Homo sapiens: one gene and its partner. The protein of the gene in region 1 interacts with the protein of each later gene in a biochemical or structural test. Each region holds a gene or a part of one and is shown in the gene's direction. Other genes may lie near its edges. The genes, in order: AHCYL1 and ITPR1.

What was found.
Region 2: the proteins of AHCYL1 (region 1) and ITPR1 form a complex in vitro, tested with the Homo sapiens proteins (one study listed by BioGRID).

What each region holds. Positions count from the first base shown.
Region 1 is NC_000001.11:110,012,513-110,022,764, forward strand, and holds part of AHCYL1 (S-adenosylhomocysteine hydrolase-like protein 1), read left to right. Parts: intron 1-384; coding exon 385-487; intron 488-2,250; coding exon 2,251-2,345; intron 2,346-2,912; coding exon 2,913-3,019; intron 3,020-3,831; coding exon 3,832-3,948; intron 3,949-4,154; coding exon 4,155-4,218; intron 4,219-4,982; coding exon 4,983-5,071; intron 5,072-5,433; coding exon 5,434-5,504; intron 5,505-5,860; coding exon 5,861-5,955; intron 5,956-6,039; coding exon 6,040-6,138; intron 6,139-6,362; coding exon of another isoform or gene 6,363-6,407; exon of another isoform or gene 6,408-6,538; coding exon 6,539-6,607; intron 6,608-7,035; coding exon 7,036-7,114; intron 7,115-8,218; coding exon 8,219-8,339; intron 8,340-9,161; coding exon 9,162-9,168; coding exon of another isoform or gene 9,169-9,214; 3' UTR 9,215-10,252. UniProt on the Homo sapiens protein: Multifaceted cellular regulator which coordinates several essential cellular functions including regulation of epithelial HCO3(-) and fluid secretion, mRNA processing and DNA replication.
Region 2 is NC_000003.12:4,668,831-4,682,047, forward strand, and holds part of ITPR1 (inositol 1,4,5-trisphosphate-gated calcium channel ITPR1), read left to right. Parts: intron 1-823; coding exon 824-943; intron 944-1,898; coding exon 1,899-2,096; intron 2,097-4,305; coding exon 4,306-4,557; intron 4,558-5,371; coding exon 5,372-5,513; intron 5,514-6,237; coding exon 6,238-6,418; intron 6,419-7,783; coding exon 7,784-7,971; intron 7,972-11,722; coding exon 11,723-11,861; intron 11,862-12,533; coding exon 12,534-12,588; intron 12,589-13,217. UniProt on the Homo sapiens protein: Inositol 1,4,5-trisphosphate-gated calcium channel that, upon inositol 1,4,5-trisphosphate binding, mediates calcium release from the endoplasmic reticulum (ER).

The sequences.
Region 1 (10,252 bases):
TCAATTTTTTTTTTTTCACTTTTCCTTTCCTAACTCGCCAACCTCCAAATGCTAACTATTAATAGGATCTCCCTGTTACACAATAATGGGGTTTTCTGGGTTTTTTTTTAATATGTAAACCCACTTTCAGCAAACTTGACCTAGGAAAGTCTAGATTTGCAAACATATGATTGTTATAAAATGTTATAAAGACTTTTAGAAACCTATGTTTTATGCAAAGTTAAATACCAGTGCACCACCTCGCTGGAGTACACCCTTTTGTAACTTTCCAGTGTAGCACCTGTTGGTGCAGAGTTGATAGGTATTGCTATCTTGATGAGGCTTGCTCTCCATTCCTGGGTGGCCCTTCTCTTCCTCACCCTGTCTTCCTACACTTCTACACAGGTGTTGATTGAGACACTCTGTGCCCTGGGGGCTCAGTGCCGCTGGTCTGCTTGTAACATCTACTCAACTCAGAATGAAGTAGCTGCAGCACTGGCTGAGGCTGGTAAGTTCGGTTTTTTCCCACCAACTTTGCCCCAAAATAGTTATCCAAACATATAACTTTTTTGTATCAAAATTGTCATTACAATATCATATATGTCTAGAGGCTATAAAATTGTGCATGATAAAAACCTCAACAGGAAGAAAGTGGATAATAAAATTAAGATGGATATCCATGGTGGAATATTATGTAGTCATTAAAAATGGCCTTTGAAAATAATCTAATGGCATGGGGTCATGCCCAGTTCTAGTGTTAGTTGAACGAGGAAGAATGTTAAACTATATAAGTGCCATCAATTTTGTGAGAGAGCACAAGTAAGAAGTACCTTTCATATTGATAGTGCATTAAATAATTTGGTATTCAGTATGGCATTGAAAATATATGAGCTATTTGTGAGTTTAATTAAACGTAAAATAATTTTTTATTATTCAGGCCAGGCCTGGTGGCCCACGCCTATAATCCCAGCACTTTGGGAGGCCGAGGCGGGCAGATCACTTGAGGCCAAGAGTTCAAGAACGGTCTGGCCAACATGGTGAAACCCCACCTCTACTAAAAATACAAAAGTTAGCCGGGAGTGGTGGTGTGCGCCTGTAATCTCAGCTACTCAGGAGGCTGAGGTAGGAGAACCACTTGAACCTGGGAGGCAGAGGCTGCAGTGAGCCGAGATCATGCCACTGCACTGCAGCCTGGGCGACAGAGTGAAACTCCATCTCAAAAATTAATAACAATAATAATAATTTTTATTATTCAAATATTCAGAAGAAAATCACCGTGAAGTTTCTTTGAGGACCTCTCATCTTTCTTTCTTTTTTTTTTTTTCTTAAGATGGAGTCTTACTCTGTTGCCCAGGCTGGAGTGCAATGGCGCAGTCTCGGCTCACTGCAACCCCTGCCTCCTGGGTTCAAGTGATTCTCATGCCTCAGCCTCCTGAGTAGCTGGGATTGCAGTGGCATGCCACCACACCCAGCTAATTTTTGTATTTTTAGTAGAGATGGGGTTTCACCATGTTGGCCAGGCTGGTCTCGAACTCCTGACCTCAAGTGATCTGCCTGCCTTGGCCTCCCAAAGTGCTGGGATTACAGGCGTGAGACACCACACCCAGCCGGACCTCTCATCTTTTTAAGATCCTCAGAAAGCAACTTTATAATACTTTTGGGTTTTTTTGTTTATTCTTTTCTGATAAGTGTTCACTGCAAAAAATTTAGGAAGTTCCCCAAAACCCTACAATCCCACTACATAGAGTATTTGATTAATGTTTTTCCTTTTCCTTTCTTCTACTTTACATAAATTCTAATATGTATACAGTTTTATAACCTAAATACAATATTTTCAGACGTAGTTTTCCATGTCACTGAAAACTTTGACAGCATCATTTGTAATAGTCATTCATATGGCTATGTGATTTCACCTCACTATTTTCCTAATGGAGAACATTTAGGTTGTTTCAAGATGTTTACTAATATCAATAATGCTCCAGTTAACAACTTTTATTAATTCCCACTTCATTTTATCTCCTTCTAAGTATAAAATTAGTCCAGAGAAAGGAACACTTTAAGGTTCCAAACTACTTTTAAAGCAAAAATTCCTTAATTTCTTAACCTAATTAATTTCTGAACCAAAAGTGATTCTTTGACTTTTGGCTCTGAATTTTTTCCCTTCTGAAATTGTTTCTTTTGCCTTTTTCTCTTCACATGGATCTCAGAAAGTGATTTGGTACAGGACACTCCTCAAAGGAGGAATCAGCTGATTCATTTCTGTCTCTACAGGAGTTGCAGTGTTCGCTTGGAAGGGCGAGTCAGAAGATGACTTCTGGTGGTGTATTGACCGCTGTGTGAACATGGATGGGTGGCAGGCCAACATGGTAATAATGCATATACATCCTACACTTTGACAATAGATTTATTTCCTTTTTTTCCCTCAAAGCATGGTTCCCTAAATATGTTTTGGATGTTTGGTCTTATGCACTGACTTTGTTGCTAAAGTGTTTAGCTTGATACCTATTCAGAATGGGTCTGAGTACTGAATGGAAAGGTGGGGGAAGGGTAAGACTAGCTGAACACATGGCTCAAACACACCAGAACAAAATAGTGGTGCTTCTTTGGAGTAGGATTCTGCTTTCTTTCCTTCCTGCCCCAGTTCTCCTTTTGCATTCAAAGGGGCTATATATTTCAAGACTCTAGACTAAAAATGAGTCTGTGATTAGCTTAATACTCATCACTGTAGCCTAAAGCAAACCTAGGAATCCTTTTAACCATTTTACACCAACAAATTTGACTGTATTTCCACTCTCTAAGCCTGCTCTAGGGAGCTCTGAGGAGTACTCTTCCAAAACATACAGGGCTCTCTTACTAGTACAGAAAGTGGGTTCAAAGTTCCCCCCAGCCCTAGCAGCCTGAATGCCCATAGAAGTCTTCTGGCTGTTCTATAGATCCTGGATGATGGGGGAGACTTAACCCACTGGGTTTATAAGAAGTATCCAAACGTGTTTAAGAAGATCCGAGGCATTGTGGAAGAGAGCGTGACTGGTGTTCACAGGTAACAGATTCTGGAGTAGCTGCCCCTTGTGTCCTTGCCTCAGCAAACTCTCCTGGTCTCTGTTAGGCTTTAGGACTGTGTTTCAGACTTATAACTAAATGGGAATATCTTCATTAGATAAAATTTTGAGTTTTTACTTTTGAAAAATCAAGTTGATCCTAGAAGGAAGTTATTTCAGGTTCTAGTTCATACATTTTTCTCTCCCATTTACTCCATTGAGTGATTCTCAACTAGTGTTGAGGGGCGGGTAGGGAATAAATGTATCTTGAAAAACTGTATTCAATATTGTATTATCATTTTATATTTGAAATATGAAAAACAATCCTATTGTAAAACTACATGTTATACACACTACAAAAAGTAAAACTGGGCAAAATATTCTTGGCTTGTTGGAATACTGAAAAGATATCTGAAAGAGTGTTTCTTGGGGGCACATTGCGCATGCTTACTCACACACACACGGAACCATATCAGAATCATTGATAGTCTTTGTTTATCAGAAGTAGGCATGGGTTTCTATTGAAAAATGCTGATCAAAGGAAATAACACTCCCTATAAAGGGAAGAGAAGTACATTTCTTCAATTGAAAGGCTTTTTTTTTTCTTCCAAAAAAGGGGTAAAGGGAGAAGAAAATGAAAAGAAGTGTGGAGGGATGACAAGGAAATAATCATGTTTTCTAATATCCTTGGGCAATAAATGAGACTGGGAAGGGCAGCATGGAACTTGAAGAGAATTAGGCAGATTTTGCCACAAATTATGTTGTGCCAGCTAACTTGGTTTTTGTTTGTTTTTGTGACCTCTTCTCTCTTTAGGCTGTATCAGCTCTCCAAAGCTGGGAAGCTCTGTGTTCCGGCCATGAACGTCAATGATTCTGTTACCAAACAGAAGTTTGATAACTTGTACTGCTGCCGAGAATCCATTTTGGATGGGTAGGTTGAATGTATATATATTCAAACTTCTAGGGGCTCTGGTCTTCCTTTGGCTTTAAAAGTTTATTAGAGGGACCATTTCATACTGAGCTCAACCAGCTTCCAATTGATATTCTCATGGGCATTGGCCCACACTTTTAACTTTGTGAAGAGGGACTGAGTTTGAGCTATTAACGTTTGAGTTGAGCCCTTGTCTGTTTCCACAGCCTGAAGAGGACCACAGATGTGATGTTTGGTGGGAAACAAGTGGTGGTGTGTGGCTATGGTGAGGTAAATAGCTGGGTCTCAGTGTCTCTTTCTTTTTGTGTACTTATTAGAAATATTGGGTAAAGGAGGCTTGTGCTGTCAATCTAGAGTCACTGATACAAGGTTTAAATTTTTTTAGATAATGTATCTCAAACAATAGCAAAAGCCTTTTATTCAGATTTATGAATAGAAACATACAAAATGAATTGAGTTTTCAGATTTTACCATTTTGCCTTGTGGAATAGATACTAGTATCATCTTCCCCAATTATAACAATAACCTTTAATGAGACTTAATTCAAGTGAATATATAGCATTTTAGCCCCACAAGTGACTTGCAGTAGAATTAAGGGTGGAATCTGAAATGGCATATAGTTGAATATCTCCAAACTGGAATAGGTCACATATTTTGTTGTCTTCAGCAATGACCCAAAGAAGTTCCTGAGCTACGAGGGTATCCTTGAGTAGATTCTTCTCAAGTAAGAGAATAGGAAATTAGAGGTTGCTTAGAGTAAGTTGCTTTTGCTTAGTCTTGTTTCCCTGATGAAAACTGCTATGCAAAGCCCCAGTCCTTCCTATGACATGTCTGCTAAATTACCTCTCTAACTGAGGTTCACAACGTAATCTGGGTCTGTTTCTGTTCTGCTTGGGATTGGAGCGTCTGTGCAGCTGCTCACCAGATGACAGGCTATTTCATGAAGGTTAATTCCTGTCTCACAAATAACCTACCTACCCTAAATATCCATGACTTAATGAACCTAACGACTTGACCTTTCTTTTGTTCTGCAGGTAGGCAAGGGCTGCTGTGCTGCTCTCAAAGCTCTTGGAGCAATTGTCTACATTACCGAAATCGACCCCATCTGTGCTCTGCAGGCCTGGTAAGAACAGAGTGATAATACTATTAGATTCACTCTAGGTGCTTTATGTTATTGAGAGTTCATAATTGAGTATATTAATCATTTTTGCAGAAATCACCTAGGGGAAGAGAAGGCTAGGACTGCTCTGTTCTTCTCACTCTAACCCTAGGGCTCTCTGAGAGCCTCTTGGCATTTTTCCTTCCTAGAGGGAGTCTTGGGGACTCTGAAGAGGCCAGTGTATATAGTTTAGCAGAGCTTATCACTCACCATTCCTGTGAGGTGGCACTGGATCCAACTAGAAGGGGATCTTGTCTCATTTCATGACCATCTTCCCTCCCACTGCCTTCTTGCTTTACTCATAGTGTTCCTTTCTTTTCTTCCAGCATGGATGGGTTCAGGGTGGTAAAGCTAAATGAAGTCATCCGGCAAGTCGATGTCGTAATAACTTGCACAGGTAAATAACTTGCATAGAGAAGTGTTTATTCAGAGGCTAAATCTTGAAAGTAGTCTGAGTGACTTTCATACAAAGGAGGTGAGACCTCTGTTCAGTATAAAGGTCTCAGAACTAGAATAAGCTATCAGAACCTTAACATGTTTTCCAGAGTAAAAAACTTTTTTCCCTGGTGACTTTTTATACTGCTTGATCTGAAGACCAGATAGCCTAAGGAGCGGTTATGCATGTCTTCTCTCAGAATGTCTACATGTTCTTTAATGCCAGCAAGCCTCTGGTCTCCTATGTTCTACCTGAAAGCCAGCCAGTACCTTTGTTGCCCGGCATCTCTTTCCTTAACCACCCATCTTTTCTTTTAGGAAATAAGAATGTAGTGACACGGGAGCACTTGGATCGCATGAAAAACAGTTGTATCGTATGCAATATGGGCCACTCCAACACAGAAATCGATGTGGTAAGGCTTCTCTCATTTGTTGCTAGGCATTTCTCTACTACCTTTCATTAATAACCATAGTCAACTGTGCTTTCTTCCTTTCAGACCAGCCTCCGCACTCCGGAGCTGACGTGGGAGCGAGTACGTTCTCAGGTGGACCATGTCATCTGGCCAGATGGCAAACGAGTTGTCCTCCTGGCAGAGGTACACACAGAGAAGGACCCTGGCAGAGCAGCACAAGCAGAGTAGTTAGATCTATGAGGGGGGAGGGGAGGGAAACAAATATTAGGCCTATGTTTCCCTGAATTTTATCTTTGGAGAGAGAGATATTTCACAAATTGGTCCCCAAAATAAAACCACTTTAAAAAAATCTACTTTTTACTAAGTAACACTATTTCCTAACCACAGCTGATTCTTTAACCTTTCAGACTCAGATGGATTTGCAGAAAATAGGAAAAAGCCTAGAGTCCTGATCTGGAACTGTAATTCTTCCTCTTCCAACTGAGTCTAGAGGGGTGTAAAGTCCTCTCCCGCTTTGGCTTGACTTGTATGCCATTGGAATCTGAGACAGAGCTCATCCCAGGGCTCTCTCTTACCTTTCCAGGGTCGTCTACTCAATTTGAGCTGCTCCACAGTTCCCACCTTTGTTCTGTCCATCACAGCCACAACACAGGTATGTGGCAAAATGCCTGCTTACACTGCACTGCAATTTGTGGAACTGGGCGTAGATCAGTTCCAGTGAGGGTGTACTGTACTATGTTCTCATCATCCTATTCTTTTTTGATGTAATAAATTGTGGAAACAGGTATTCTTAAGTATAGAAAAGAGTCACTAAGTCAGTATTCGTTGAATTGGCTGTTTTAGTTGAGAATATAATGTTCCAGCTTAGTTTTATTTGATTTGTTCTTTCGTTAGGAACTAAACAAAAACAACAAATCCTCTTAGGATGTGTGCTGCCCTTTAGTATAGGCAAAGTCCTAGGTACTGTGACTGTGGTAGATCACTGTAGTACTTACCCAAATGCTGTTTAACCTGGTTTTATTTTTATGTGCCTGTCTAAGAAATATTTTTGTGCTTTCTGGCCTTCTTTTCCCACCTTAGGCTTTGGCACTGATAGAACTCTATAATGCACCCGAGGGGCGATACAAGCAGGATGTGTACTTGCTTCCTAAGAAAATGGGTGAGTGAAAAACAGTGGAAATCTATGCAGACAGCTGCATAGTTTGGTAAAATGACTGCCATGAAAGGCATTGGATTTAGAGTCAGAGTTCCAATTCCTGTTCCTGTGCTTACTGGTTGTTTGACCTCAGGACAAGTTCTAATCTCTATGATCCTCAGTTTCTTGATTGGTAAAATGAAAATAATACTACATACATTGTAGAATTGTGTGAGAATCACAGCTAATGAGTAACAGTGCTTAACACAATGGTTTAGGGAGATGTTCTTACTCTAAGTAGCCTTATGAAGTTCAGTAAACTTCCCAGTGCAGCTGAGTACATACAGCCTTGGAACAAAATGAGAGAAACAAACACAGGTTTTATTGTCCATTTTCTGTGAGGATATGCAAACCATCCAATCTCTTGTAAGCAACCCATGCTGTGTTCATGTGACATAATACATCATCTCTAGTCCTTTGCCTTTCTGCACGGTGTACCCATCTCCCATATCTCCTTGGCTAGCCCAAATCCCTGACTTCTTAATGCTAAAATACTTCTTGCTCTCCTCTCCTCCAATAGCTTACTTCAGACTTTTTTTTCAGTGTATAATTATAAAAGGGAAGCTTATCTATGGAAAAGTAAAAATTCTGTGCCGACTACCTTAGAAATTCATGATCCTAAGATCCATGGATCTTATCCTAAATGAGTGTTATTGACACAGGGTCTTTCTAGCTTACTGGTGTCCACTTTGATTGCTAATTTGACTATAATCTAGTTAAGGAGGTTGCTGCAGGAAGGTAGGAGTAGCATGTGACATGTGGGCCACTGCAGGGAAGCCCCCTGCTTTGCCAGAGAAGGATAGAGAGGTAAAAGCCCACTCCCTTTTGTTACCCTGGTAAGTGGCTTTTCTGAACGCACTGTACATGTGCTGAGAGAAGCATCCTGCCCAGAAAGGCAGCTTTGAGGTTTTTTTTTTAATTAAGCAAATATTTCAAGTTGTGGATTCTTTCAGAGTTATTCCATCCCTTGTCTGCTTTCTTAAAAAAGCTTCAAATGAAAATGGGAAGTTATAACTTGAGAGACATTTTGAAAAGGAGTCTGCTCTCCTGCCACTTTGCTCTTCCTAGATGAATACGTTGCCAGCTTGCATCTGCCATCATTTGATGCCCACCTTACAGAGCTGACAGATGACCAAGCAAAATATCTGGGACTCAACAAAAATGGGCCATTCAAACCTAATTATTACAGGTAACCTGGGGAGAAGCAAGTGAAAAGCTCTTTTTCCCAGTATTAAACCAAGCAGGCTAGCCTGCTTCTGACATAAAGATCAAATGTTGTACCTGATTTTGAAGAATACAAGAAATCTGTTCCAGGCCAGGCACGGTGGCTCACGCCTGTAATCCCAGCACTTTGAGAGGCCTAGGCGGATGGATCACTTGAGGTCAGGAGTTCAAGACCAGCCTGGCCAACATGGCGAAACCCTATCTCTTAGCCGGGTGTGGTGGCGGGCACCTGTCATCCCAGTTACTCAGGTGGCTGAGGCACGAGAATCACTTGAACCTGGGAGGCGGAGGTTGCAGTGAGCTGGGATCATGCCACTGCACTCCAGCCTGGGTGATGGAGTGAGACTCTGTCTTAAAAACAAACAAACAAACAAAAAAACTGTTCCAGTTAACAAGGTAGATAGAGAAATTGTGGGAGATATCAGGGAGTTAGGGTTTTTTTGAAATTTTGGAGCCTGGGCCTCACCCTAAGAGATTCTGATATATTTGGTCTGCGATGGGACCAAATTTACAAAACATTATTTTGTAAAACCTCCCCAGATTATTGTAATGTTTAGTCAGGGTTGAAAAAACACTGACTCATTCCTGGGAACAGGCGGTAACACCAGAAATGGCATTGTCAGAGACCCTGTGGAAGAATAAGGGAGACTGGTGCCCTGGGGAATGACTGCAGGGATCCCACCCAGGCTGGGGAGGGGCCCTGGAGAAGGTGCTCTGTTTCCGATTGTTTTTTGGAATTCTCATATGGAAGACATAAGTGTTAACCAATCACTCTCTCTCTTTACAGATACTAATGGACCATACTACCAAGGACCAGTCCACCTGAACCACACACTCTAAAGAAATATTTTTTAAGATAACTTTTATTTTCTTCTTACTCCTTTCCTCTTGATTTTTTTCCTATAATTTCATTCTTGTTTTTTCATCTCATTATCCAAGTTCTGCAGACCACACAGGAACTTGCTTCATGGCTCTTTAGATGAAATAGAAGTTCAGGGTTCCTCACTCTAGTCACTAAAGAAGGATTTTACTCTCCCAGCCCAGAAAGGTGATTCTTTCTTTACCATTTCTGGGGACTTTAGTCTTAATTAGGTACCTTATTAACAGGAAATGCTAAGGTACCTTCTCTGTGGAACAATCTGCAATGTCTAAATCGCCTTAAAAGAGCCCATTTCTTAGCTGCTGAAATCAGTGCTCTTTCACTTCTTCAGAGAAGCAGGGATGGTACCTACCCGGCAGGTAGGTTAGATGTGGGTGGTGCATGTTAATTTCCCTTAGAAGTTCCAAGCCCTGTTTCCTGCGTAAAGGTGGTATGTCCAGTTCAGAGATGTGTATAATGAGCATGGCTTGTTAAGATCAGGAGGCCCACTTGGATTTATAGTATAGCCCTTCCTCCACTCCCACCAGACTTGCTCATTTTTCGAGTTTTTAACTAGACTACACTCTATTGAGTTTAATTTTGTCCTCTAGGATTTATTTCTGTTGTCCAAAAAAAAAAAAAAAGAAAAGAAAAATTAAGGAGAATTTTTGGTGTTAATGCTGAGGAATTGCTTGAGTGGTTAGTTGTTACCAATTTCTCTTTTGAACCTTTGGAGCTAAGGATGCTGAGTCTAGAGAAATGCTAGTCTCAAGCCCTGTTAAGTCCCTCTGTTTCTAGCCCGTAGTTCATAGCATCAGTGAACTGGAGCCACAACAGCAAATTCTATCAGCTGTGTACCATACAGCTTGTGCTGAAGGCGAATTTCTTGAGCCATTACTCAGTATAAAGCACTGAGTTCTATCTTTAGGATTTATCTTTAAGAGCAAATTTCTGGTCAGCTGTGCTTCTGCAACCTAAAATATTTAAAGGGAGGTAGGTGTGGGCAGGAGGAGGAATGA
Region 2 (13,217 bases), on another chromosome or scaffold:
GAGTCTTGCAAGTTCAGTTGTTGGTTGAGCGTTTTTATTATAGATTAGTGAATTCTATTGATTGTATCTCATTCACACAGATCTGCTCCTCTTTCGTACACCCTCTCCCCATTTCTTTCCCCTTCTCTTGTCCTTCTAATTAAGACCCATATTTTCAGTTGAAGCGGGAAGCAATTTACAATGTGGGTGTCACAAATGATTACAATGGAGCACGGACACAGTTGCTGTAAAAACACCTACTACCACCCTTGAAAATAACCCGCATTTTCTGGAGCCTGCTCAAGGGCTCAGGTAGTGAGCAATGGAAGCACTTCCGTTAATTATCTCATTTAATCCGCAGGACAGCCCTCAGAAGTGACACATTATCCTTTTCTGTAGACGAGCATCAATTAAAGCACAGTGAAATTAGTAATTTCCCCAAATGAACGCTCCATAGCAGAACTCCGCTAATAAGATCCTAACTGGGCTTCCAACACACGTAGCCAAACATCAGGGCGTTGCCTCTCACCACTGTGGTTCCCCTGTGTCTCCACCACACCTTCCTTATGTGAGCTGCTTTCTTGTCTTGTTCCTTCTTCTCATCTTTGCCTCATCACCTCTTCCTTGACCACAGCCACTCCTGTCTTTCCTTCTTGTTTCCTCTTCCTTCTTTCTGGCATGTGGCTTTCTGGTGATGCCATAAACATTGGCATCAAGACTTAGAATGCTGCTGACATGTCTTGGTAAAGGTATGTTGGACCTGTGCACTTAAGGAAGAATTGGGGTCCAGGAGCCTAACCTCTGCTCTATCTACAGAAAATGTTTTGTTTCTGTTTCTGTTTAGATTCTTAGATTACCTCTCCGACCTCTGTGTCTCCATGAACAAATCAATTCCAGTGACCCAGGAACTGATATGTAAAGCTGTGCTGAACCCCACCAACGCTGACATCCTGATTGAGACCAAGTGAGTGGGGAGCCAGGGTTTAGATGGAAAACATGGGGTTCATTCAGTGTTGGTGCTCATGAGGAATAAAACCTAGCCCTATCATTTTTTGAGTTGATCTAAAGTCAGTGTGGCTGGCATTTGATCTTCTTATTGGAAAAGTCTTGATTAGGAGAATTCCCGAATTTGATTTTGGTGTCACCTCCTCTTCATAGTGGTGTCACTTATTTTGCATACAAGTTTAGAAGTCATGTAAACTCACCGGGGAGCATTTTATACAGCTACATTTTAAGAGTTTAAAACTCTTTGTAAGTGTGACCATCAATTTAAAATTTCAAATGACATAATGAATATTCAGTGTTAAGATTAAGTCAGTGTTGGGAGGAGTTTTAAATTATTACTGTTCAGAACATGTTTATTGGTCTGCAGAATTTTTGTTACCAGTAGTAATTCATTTTTGGCAAAGGAGCAGTTTTCCTGAGAAGTACAGTGCCGGTAATATGGACAGCCTTAAAAAACATACTAAATTACGTCCTGAGCTAGTGATACTTCATTGATTCACATGTATAACTCAGTTTTGGGCTTGGGCTAATGCAGGGTTTTTCAGTTTAGGTATTTTCACATTTCGGGCTTGGTAATTCTTTGTTGTGGGGCTGTGCTAGGCACTGTAAAATGTTCAGCAGCATCCCTGGCCCCTACCCACTTAGATGCCAGTAGCACCTCTCCATTTCGGTTGTGACAACCAAAAACCTGTCCAGAGACATTGCCTGGTGTCCACTGGGGGCAGCAGCACCATAGTCGAGAACCACTGGGTTACAGTATATGAAGATGTTAATGTCAGGCTCTCTGCGGCTCTGCCCTTGGGGGAAATACAAAACAAAAAGTGTCTTTCCATGTGTCTTTATGCTGAAAGTAAAGCTAGATCTCAAAGTATTTTTAAAAATAGTAACTTTTCCCTCCTCCTCTTGTTTTCTAGGTTGGTTCTTTCTCGTTTTGAATTTGAAGGTGTCTCTTCCACTGGAGAGAATGCTCTGGAGGCAGGAGAAGACGAGGAAGAGGTGTGGCTGTTTTGGAGGGACAGCAACAAAGAGATTCGCAGCAAGAGTGTGAGGGAATTGGCTCAGGATGCTAAAGAAGGGCAGAAGGAGGACCGAGACGTTCTCAGCTACTACAGGTGCGTGGGACACGTGTGGGGCTCAGATTGGGGTGCCCCAAAACAGTGGCACTTAGGAATTTGTTGCTCGTTTGTTGATTACTTCAAGGAATCACAAGGAGTCATCTTGTAAGATTGTCTAGAAAAAAGCCAGATGTGTGTTTTAGGAGTTTGGAGTGTAAGATTTCAGTTAGTTGACATCTGGATGTGGCTGGTTCCCAAAAAGGATGAGTGCTTGCCTCAGTCCCTGGTGATAGTTTATCCTTCAGCAGCATGGCCCATAGATATGGTGGTAGGTACGTAAGAGGCAGGCTGTGGGGTCACATCCCTACCTCTCCGCTTACCAGTTTTTTGACATTGGCCAAGTTTGATTTTATGCTCTAATTTCTTTATCTGCAAAATGAAGGTGATAGTGCCAATCTCACCAAATGTTTATAGACAGAGACAGAAGATGTGTGTGTTTGTATACACATATATCTACACATTCATCCATGTATCTTTCTATAACTACACAAATATATAATAAAAAGCATGTACTTACACTAATACTTCCAATTCCATTCCAACACCATAGGATTTATTCTAGCCTTCACCTTTTCCATTTCATGACTCCCTCCAGCTGCCACGATTCCCTGTATGTTTACCCATCTGCCCGTTTCCCTGTGTGTACCTGTCTCACCTCTGCCACCCACCTCCACGGTCCCCAGTGTCTCCTTGGCTCCAGCTGTAAGACCTGCCAGTCCTGCCACCTGAAGGGAAGGGAAGGGGAAGAAAGAAAGGAAGTGAACCAATTAATACTTTTAAAAGAAAAGGAAAGGGAAGATAAAGCAAGGCTTTTATTATTTTTTAATAAAATAAATAAAACTGCAGATAAAATGCCTTTTCTTGCCTCCTGTATTCTGTTCTTTCATTCATGTGTGATGTACGCATCCTATCCACATTCTCTGTGTGCTGCATTTGTATGCATCTGTAAATCATATGTAGTATTTTATCTCTACTTAAAATTTTATATAAATGGGACTGTACTCCAAATACCATTCTAAAACTTGCCTTATTTATTCAATACGGGTACTGAAGCCATATTGAATATATCTGCGTTAATAGAGATTAATCCATTTCTGTAATTTGGACTGTTGGATGATATTCTGTTTTATTGATTTATCACATTTTCATCGCTGTTTGATATTTGATCACATGCTGCAGTTCTTCATGTCAGGAAACATCTTCATTCAAATTTTTCTGAGTATATGTATGAATTTCCATTCCACACTGGGAGGTGGGCTTGGAGGATATTCATATTTTAAGCTTTACTAAGCAATTCTAAATTGGATGTGTCAGTGTACACACCCACCAGTTGTAGACGACAAGCTTTGTTTCTTCATGTCTTTGTTAACCTTGAATATCATGATGCTTTTTAATTTTTGGTAATTTTATAAGTGTGAAATAGACTCATGTCTACACTTGCATTTCCCCGACATCTAATGAGGCTGAGAATGTCTTCAAATCATGATTATTAGAAATACATAGAGTTTTTAATTCAGAAGGCAGTATTTTGAAAGCCTGTGGCTTTCTCGTTATTTCACATTTCAAGTATGTTTACTCTTTCAGTGTTTGATGAATCTTCTCCCAAGTGAATGAGAAAGAGTGCCTTAATTGGTCAGGTTCCAGTTAACAACATTCACTTGCAATTGGATGAAGATGAAAAGTGAGGAGTCTCCTACTTTTGTAAATGAAATGTTTTTTTACACGTGTAGGAATTAGAGTGACTTACATGATATAAGATCTTTAAAATGTTATAAAATTTCTAATTAGGCTGAATATGTGTGATATCTTGAACATTTCCTACATGGTCTTTACTGTATAAAACACAGCTGAAGGGAAAGAAATAGACAACCATCTTAGGCCTTAGCATTCCCCCCGTTTATTTTAAAAAGTAAACATTAAGGACCTAGTGGAATTAGGTCGTCACATAATTGCTCCAACACAGCTGGATAGACATGTGTTCCTGTTGGCTGTCAACCCACACTCTACTGCACAGCTTGAATAGTTCTTTTATCTGCTTGGTACCAAAGCCAAAATCCTGGTATACAAGAGCAATTTAGGGGTGTTGATGTATGAGTTTAGTTGGCCAAATGTCACTCCCATGACAGTCAGGGCTGCCCAGACGACCCTTCATTCATCCTGAATGATTTCTGGAGCGTGAGCTGTGTGCCCTTGTTCCTTCCTCTAGATATCAGCTGAACCTCTTTGCGAGGATGTGTCTGGACCGCCAATACCTGGCCATCAACGAAATCTCAGGCCAGCTGGATGTCGATCTCATTCTCCGCTGCATGTCTGACGAGAACCTGCCCTATGACCTCAGGGCGTCCTTCTGCCGCCTCATGCTTCACATGCATGTGGACCGAGATCCCCAGGAACAAGTCACCCCCGTGAAATATGCCCGCCTCTGGTCGGAGATTCCCTCGGAGATCGCCATTGACGAGTGAGCCTGGCACCTGAAAACCTCACTTTACATTATTCTGTGCGGCAGTAGATAGCCCCATATGGTCTCATTAAATCTTAGAAGAAAGATGAAGTGTTGGTTTTTTCTTCAAGCTTAAAATAAAATTAAGTGGATGGCAAATATTTTTTTCCTCAAGAATGTGAAAGATGGCATGATTATGTTTTTGGTTTTTGTTTGTTTGTTTGTTTGTTTGAGATGGAGTCTCACTCTGTTGCCCAGGCTGAACTGCAGTGGCGCAATCTCGGCTCACTACAAGCTCTGCCTCCCGGGTTCGTGCCATTCTCCTTCCTCAGCCTCCCAAGTAGCTGGGACTACAGACGCCCACCACCACGCCCGGCTAATTTTTTGTATTTTTAGTAGGGACGGGGTTTCACCGTGTTAGCTAGGACGGTCTCGATCTCCTGACCTTGTGAGCCGTCCACCTCGGCCTCCCAAAGTGCTGGGATTACAGGCGTGAGCCACCGCGCCTGGCCCCGATTGTATTTTTTATATCTCATTTATCTCCTCTTTCATTCTGCAAATATTTAAGTGTGTACTATGTGCCAAGCTCAAGAAATATATCAGTGAACAAACTAGAAAGCAATCTCTATGCTAGTTGGTGGAAGACAGACAATAGGCAAGATAAACGACTCAAATATATAGTTGGTGATATATGCTAAGGAGGGAAAAAATAAAGTAGGGTCAAGGGATGCCAAGGGTTAGGGGATGTTGACTTTTGAAGCTGAGTGACCCAGGAAGACCTCTCTGGGAATAACTTGAAATTTTGTTTCCTTTCTTTCTCCTTTCTTTTCAGCTATGATAGTAGTGGAGCTTCCAAAGATGAAATTAAGGAGAGATTTGCTCAGACCATGGAGTTTGTGGAGGAGTATTTAAGAGATGTGGTTTGTCAGAGGTTCCCTTTCTCTGATAAAGAGAAGAATAAGCTTACGTTTGAGGTAACTCATGATGAAATCTTCTATGTGTATTATCTGCCTCTCAGTGGTCATTTTTCTATGGGGCAAATAGAAAATATGTGAGTAGGTTGTGATTTTGGTCATGATGCTCTGGTTTTGTAATGGAAAGGAATTCAGCTTGGTTTTGTTCCAGAATAAAATAAAACGGATACCAGTCACATGGCTTAATAGTAGTTATGGGCTTAAAAGAAATATACAAGGTGACTTGAACCACATAAAATGATAGAACATCACTTTGTGTTAAAACTGACAAGAGAGAAACACTGTGCTTGCAATCTGCCATAGCTTAATCATTTGCAGAACATAAATCCTTGTTACTTCTGAGTTAACAACGTTTCTGAGACTGCTTTTGCCTTTTAAGAGCTGTATTGCTGAGGATCGCAGAGTGTTATTATCTGTGTCCTTATTGGGAATAACTCTGCTTGCCTGGTGTTAATATTATCCTTGGGAAGCTGTGTAGAGCAAATGATGAGGTCTTTTTTTTTTTTTGATTAGTCATCAGAGCAGATCAGTAGCTTTCCATTTCTTATTTTTCCTCCTTATGAAACAAAATGAAAATTTATCAGAAAGTGCAAGGAAAATACATGCCTTCTCTTACCATAAGGAAGGTCCAAGTCTGTCATTTCTAAACTGGTCAACATCAAATGGAATTGAAGGGGATGCAGTTTATGTAATACCGTCTTCTTCTTTTATTTTAATACAATAGGTTGTAAATTTAGCTAGGAATCTCATATACTTTGGTTTCTACAACTTCTCTGACCTTCTACGATTAACTAAGATCCTTCTGGCCATATTGGACTGTGTACATGTGACAACAATCTTCCCCATTAGCAAGATGGCGAAAGGAGAAGAGAATAAAGGTAACAATGATGTGGAGAAGCTGAAGAGTGAGTATCTGAGGGTGCCCATACATCTGAGAGATGCCCTCCAGCCTTTCCTGTTATGCTCATGTCATACCCTATATGTGATGCCACATCCTTTCTTTGTTCATTCCTTCCCAACTTTTCATCGTGAACATTTTCAAATACTGTGTAAAGAAAAGCGGAAAGAACAGTACGATGGAGTCCCACGTACCCATGACTTTGAGTCAACAGTTATTCACGTTTTGCTGAATTTTATTTTGTATTTATGTGTATTTATGTGTATTTTATTTTGTATTTATGTGTTTATGTATGAGTCGTGTGTATATTTTGTTGAACAATTTGAAAGTTACTTAACACTTTGAATGTTTATATAACAAATACATGTCCTATCATTGTTCTTGACATTCGTGAGACCCTTGATAATAATATTTGTTTAGGATGTAAGAAAATCCAGGCTTCTATCTTGGTGGCTATTTCCACTTTGTGAGAAGGACAATCTGCCTTTGCATGTTTATTTCTTCCTCGTTTTAGGGTCAGAGTAGGCAGATATTGGTATCATGTATCAATTATTGTTAACTGGTCTTCTGCAGCTAGAACAGAAAGAAATACATTGACTTATCTCTATTTGCTAGGTCTTGTGCTGAGTCATGTTGCATTATACCATTTAGTTCTTTTGTTGAGCTCCTTTATTTCCATTTTGTAGATGAGGAGACTGAGGCTTAGAGGTAGTATGGTGCACCTAAGGTCAAGCAGCATCAGGATTTGTACCTTGTTAACTTTATGTACCTAGTTCTGTGCTCATAACAAGCACATAGTTGATGATCAATAAAATTTGGGCAGGGCATAGTGATTCATACCTGTAATACTAACATTTTGGGAGGCTGTAGCAGGAGGATTGCTTGAGGCCAGGAGTTCGAGACCAGGCTGGGCAATATAGAGAGAACCTATCTCTACCAAAAAAAAAAAAAAAATTAGCTGGGTGTGGTGATGCATGCCTATAGTCCTAGCTACTTGAGACGTTGAGGCAGGAAGATTGTTTGAGCCCAGAAGTTTGAGGCCACAGGGAACCATCATTGTGTCACTGCACTCCAGCCTAGGTGATAGAGGAAGATCCTGTCTCTAAAGAAAATTAAAAAAAATAAAATTTGATGGGCAAGTTAGTGCACAGAAATGCCCCTCTGGGGATTTTGAAGCCCGTGATCTTTCTGTTGCTCTCAGAAGCCCAGATTTTTGATGTGCATTTACCTTTCCAGGTTTCCAGGGTCCTGAGATTATGTTGGAATAGGGATATGTTAAATAATTTCTCTCAAAGAGCCCCTGCCCCTTGACATATGCCTCTGAGCATTCTCTAGAGACATTGTGACCGTGGTCTCTCCTGGCCTTTCCTAGGCAGTAACGTGATGAGATCTATTCATGGCGTGGGAGAGCTGATGACCCAGGTGGTGCTCCGGGGAGGAGGCTTTTTGCCCATGACTCCCATGGCTGCTGCCCCTGAAGGCAATGTGAAGCAGGCAGAGCCTGAGAAGGAGGACATCATGGTCATGGACACCAAGCTGAAGATCATTGAGATACTCCAGGTATCCACTAGCTGGAGCTGGGGTAGGGAGGGTATGTCACAGAGGCGCCATTCAGATCCAGTCCCTCTGTTCTGATGGAGCCCAAGGCTTTCTGGGAAGAAAATGGGGGCAAATCCTTAGCTCATCCCTCCGTGTCATTTATGAGCTGGCTCCTCTTAATCCCTTTACTGCTTTCTCCTACCCTCCCAACATGGCCATGTCCCTCCAGCCATGTCAAGACTTGCCATTGTTATCTTAGCTTTCCATGATCATTGGCCTCCATGCCAACCCTCTGCCTAGAATTCACTTACCTCTGTGTCTCCATGTAGCTGCATCTCTGCTTATTGATCATAACTAGGTTCAGGGTTCCATCAACTTTGCAAAGCCTTCCTCCCTTCTTCCCTTTTTCATTCAATCAACAAATATTTATTGAGACCAACTCTGTGCCAAGTCCCCTTAAGCACTGGGAGGGTCCAGCAATGAAAAAAATAGATGAAATTCCTGCTTCTCTAGAATTTACATTTTGATAGAGGGGCATGGGCATGTATTAAGAATAAGTGCTAAGAGACGTTAAAAAGTAAAGGAGGGTCAGGATTGTTTGGAGACACTGAGGACAGGGGGCTGGGGTTATTGTGTTTGGTGAGGTTATCAGAGAAGGCCTCTCCAGTACAGTGACATGATTACACACCTGAATGAAGTGAGGAGATAGCCACACAGATATCTTGGGAAAGGGTATCTGAGGCAGAGGGAGCAGCAAACACAAAGACCCCATGGTGAAGAGGGCACATTTGGGAACAGGTGGGGTTCAAGAGGGAATGGGAGAAGATCAAGTCGGGGAGTAAATATATATAGCTTCTTGGACAGATTGCCTGTAAGGATGCACAGAGAAGTGGGGACATGGGCAGAGAGCGATTGTTGGTAACATGGTTTATTTTTGTTGTAATATTTTTTAAGTGGGTGGGTTATAACAAGCTTGTATGGTGAATAGGAATGATCATGTATACAGGGAGAGTTTGTTGCTGTTTGGGGAGAGAATAATTGTAAGAGCAAAGTCCTTCTGTAGGCAAGCGGGGGTGGAATCTAGTATATAGGGAAGGCTTGGTCGTAGGCATGAAACCCTCCCAAGCCTCTCTACAGCTTTGAACCCCACCCGACAACCTGCGCTTCCCTCTTTCTGTGCCGTGTAGGTAACTTTTATTCATCAACAAAATCATCTGCTCCTTAATGGAAAGAATTATGTGTTAGCACCTTCTTTTTTTTTATCCCATGTTGCCTGATCTCAACCCCAACAGATGTAGTAGAAATTCATAAATGTTTAAGATCTGGGGGTTTTATTTTTTAGTCTGAAATCACCCTTTACCAATGCTTTGAAAGTTTTAATGGGTTGTCTCAAAGTCATGTAATTAGGACGATAAAGACAGCTTAAGTAAAGGAGAAATCTTACTGAATTTATGCCTGAGCAACAGTAGAGAAAGATTCCTTTTTTAAAACTTTATTTTTTAATAAATTTTATTTTTACTTTTATTTTCAATTTTTTTTGTCGAGACAAAATATACATATAAAATTTGCAGGCCATGGTCCATGTGTTCCAAAGTGGTGTCTTGGACGTTTATCAGAAACGACGCAGTGCAAAACTTGGTCACATCTTGAGGTCCACTCACCGTGGTGACCTAAGAAGGATTGGTCGATTGAGTCATTCTTTCCACGGGTACTTATTGACTCCCTACCATGTGCACTGTGAGGAATGCAAAAATGATTCGAACAGGGGCTCCATCCACAGGGGTTTATAGTCTGATGGGAGAATAAGGTATGATGAAGCTGCGTGGATGTGGAAATAAAACCACCAGAAAGTTCTTCTGAGACTGGAGTCCGGGAGTGGGGTCATGTGACTCCACATGGTAAAGATCAGAGAAGGGTTGATGGAGGAGGTAGGGTTTCATCTGAGCCTTTAAGGTGCATGGGCTTTGTACATGGAGAAACAAGGGCCCGTTCTCAGGTGGATGGAGCAGCCTGAAGCCGAGTACCATGGGATGCAGGTCAGTGGGCAGTTCTTGCTGAGCAGAGACATAGAGTGTGCTGAGGGGAAGTTGTCAGAAGTGAGTTTGGAAAGGAGGACCAAGCCACACTGCACAGAGCTTTGGGTGTCTAAAATGCTAAGGCTTATTCTCTGTTGAGCCTTTGAAAGTCTTCAAGCGGGAGCTTAACATAAGAACAAGTGGTTAGGAGGCTGATTTGGTGAATTTGGTTCTGTAAATGGAACAGGCAGGAGATAATGAGGCCTTGAGCAGGGAGAAACGGCAGTAGGGGAGAACTCTATGAGAAGCGGTAAATGGAGAACCACCAGGACTTAGTCTCTGATTAGATGTGTGTCCAGGAAGGAGGCGCTGATGATCAGGCAACTGACTGAGGTTGAGGAAACCCAGGCAGAAAGTAGATGAAGGCAAGACTGACAATGTTAGTGTGTTAGCGCTCTCCAGAGAAACAGAACAAATAGGATACATACAGATAGACAAGAGGGGGTTTATTATGGGAATTGGCCTCACGCAGTTACGGAGGCCGAGAAGTCCCCCAGTCTGCCACAGCAAGCTGTGTCCCGGGAAAGCCAGTGGTGTGATTCAGCCTGAGTCCCAAGGCTGAGAACCAGGGGAGCTGAAGGTGTAACTCTCAGTCTGAGGCCAAAAGCCGGAGAACCTGGAGCTCTGATGGGCAGGAGAAGATGAGTGTCCCAGCTCCAGAACAGGTGGATTCGGTCTTCCTCCACCTGTTTGCTCTATCCAGGCCCTCCGTGGATTGGATGGTGCCCACTCACACTGGGTGAGAGCGGATCTTCTTTACTCAGCTCACTGATTCAAATGCCAGTCCATTCTGGAAACCCCCTCATAGATTTACCCGGAAATAAAGTTGTACAAGCTGTCTAGGTGTCCTTGAACCCAGTCAAGTTGGCATATAAAATTAACCATCGCAGTTACTTTTGTGAAACACTGAGTTTGAGGCCCTGGGAAGATAGCAAATAGGATGTCCAACAGTCTGTAGGACACATACACTGAGAGCATGGAGGCAGGCCAGAGACCTATCTCCCTCTGGAAGAGGTGATGGCCACTGGACTGGGAAAGGTTGCTGGGAGGCTAAGCAGAGACAAGGGGAGAACGGAAGGAAGAACGTGAGTGAGATCCCTACATGATGTCAGCTGCTCAATCTTTCTTTTTGGTTCTAGCAGCAATCCTGGGAAAAGTGACCCTGTGTTGGAATAAAGGGTGAGGGAATACAGGAGGCAAAAGAAGAGGGTGTCCAAGGGTTTGTACCCAAACCAGGGGAAACAACCAGAAACAGGAAATAGGAACCAAGCTAATTTTCCATAGTAAAAAACAAATTTTTTTTTGTTAATTCTCTTAAATCCAAAGCAGGCAACTTCACTCTTTTCAGTGTTAGGCCCAGAGTTGACATTCAATACTTACTGAAATGGAGTCTTGTTTTATAGACTCCATTTATGGAGCCAGGAGTGAGTGATTTAGTGTTCCAATTGTTAAATTAATTGCCAGGATGCTGAAGCTTACACTAGAGGCTAAGGTGCTATGGGCAGACTTCATATGCCCCATGGAAGTCTGCTGTTGTTAAAATGACTGTTGAAATCTAAGCCAAATACTTGGCTCACTTAGTGCTTAAGGTAATTGATGCAGCTGATACCAGGCCCCGCCAGTGTGTGGTGGCTTGGCAGAGTCAAGATGGTATGTTAATGTAACCAATCTGTTTCCATTTCCACTTGAATCTTTAGTTTATTTTGAATGTGAGGTTGGATTATAGGATCTCCTGCCTCCTGTGTATATTTAAGCGAGAGTTTGATGAAAGCAATTCCCAGACTTCAGAAACATCCTCCGGAAACAGCAGCCAAGAAGGGCCAAGTAATGTACCAGGTTAGTGATTCAGAATGGAATTTCAGCCATAGAATGGGACCTGGCTCTAAGGAAAATGGGGAGAGCAAACAGTATCTTCTAGAAAAAGGGTGAAAATGGTTTTGAGGATTATTGCACCAGGGCATCATCCTGGCAGTTACTCTTTTTGAGCAAGTGAATAATTGATAGAGCCCAGATTCCTTCTGGGTTGGATCTTGTTTCCTTCCATCTGGGAGTGTCTTAGTGATGAGACAGTTGAGGTTTCCAGCATTGTGGCTACCCACCTCCCCCGCAAAAATACCAAAATAAAAACAGTAACAAAAAACTCTCCAGGAGACTTCTTGACCACTAGCAGCTTTTACTCACTTTGGAAGTTTTTCCCTGCCCAGGAACTAGTGGTGACGGGAGATGGTAGGAGTAGAAATAATCCCATCTACCAAGCCCAAGCTTCCATGAGTGAGATCATTGCTGTCCTTTACCAGGGGACCATGCAGTGAGGGAGGAAGGGGCAGGAATGTGGAATATGTGGTTAATGTCATCTGGGTTAGTCACTCTGCATAGCTTTGCAATATAATGTTCTGGGAGATTTGGGGTTAACTCAACAGCTTTACCCTGCAAAACTTATGGATGAGTTCACCAGCAGCATGTTTGCAGACCTTCCTGCATCTGAAGTGGTATGTTCTAACTTTTCAGGTGCTCTTGACTTTGAACACATTGAAGAACAAGCAGAAGGCATCTTTGGAGGAAGGAAAGTATATTTTCAGTTACTGTTTTGTAGGGAAGGCTGCTCTTCCAGAGCTCTCAGAGGCCTTCCCTTTATTATGTTAGTAAATATTTAGTCTCTGGGCTTAGGTTGTTTTGGTGCTATCTTTGGAACTGTTAGTACTCAAGTCAGAGTTAACTTGGTTGGCTTGATTGGGAGGAGAGAGAGAGTGAGAGAGAGAGAGAGAGAAAGTGTGTGTGTGTGTGTGTGTGTGTGTGTGTGTGTCCCACCTAGGACAGAAAGGATTTAAGGAGATTTCTCAAAATACCTACATTACAAGATTATTTTTACATAGTGAGGAAATGCAATCAAAAGAAGAATAGAAAGAGAGAGGGGCTCAAAACAGAGTGAAGTTAGTAAGATCATGTCCTGCTGCTGCTGCTGGGCTACAATTTTATCCCTGAGCTCCTTACAGGCTATGCAACAAAGAAAGCAAAATCTGGTCTTTCATTGTTCCTAATATTAATGTATGAACCCCTTTAAAAAAAAACCGCACTGGTCAATTTTGACTTAAGACATTATTATAATTATGGAACTCTTATACCTCCAAGTATAAAATTTGGTATAAACACCATATGCACATAGTTCTTATAATTAGCACACTTGGTTTGATT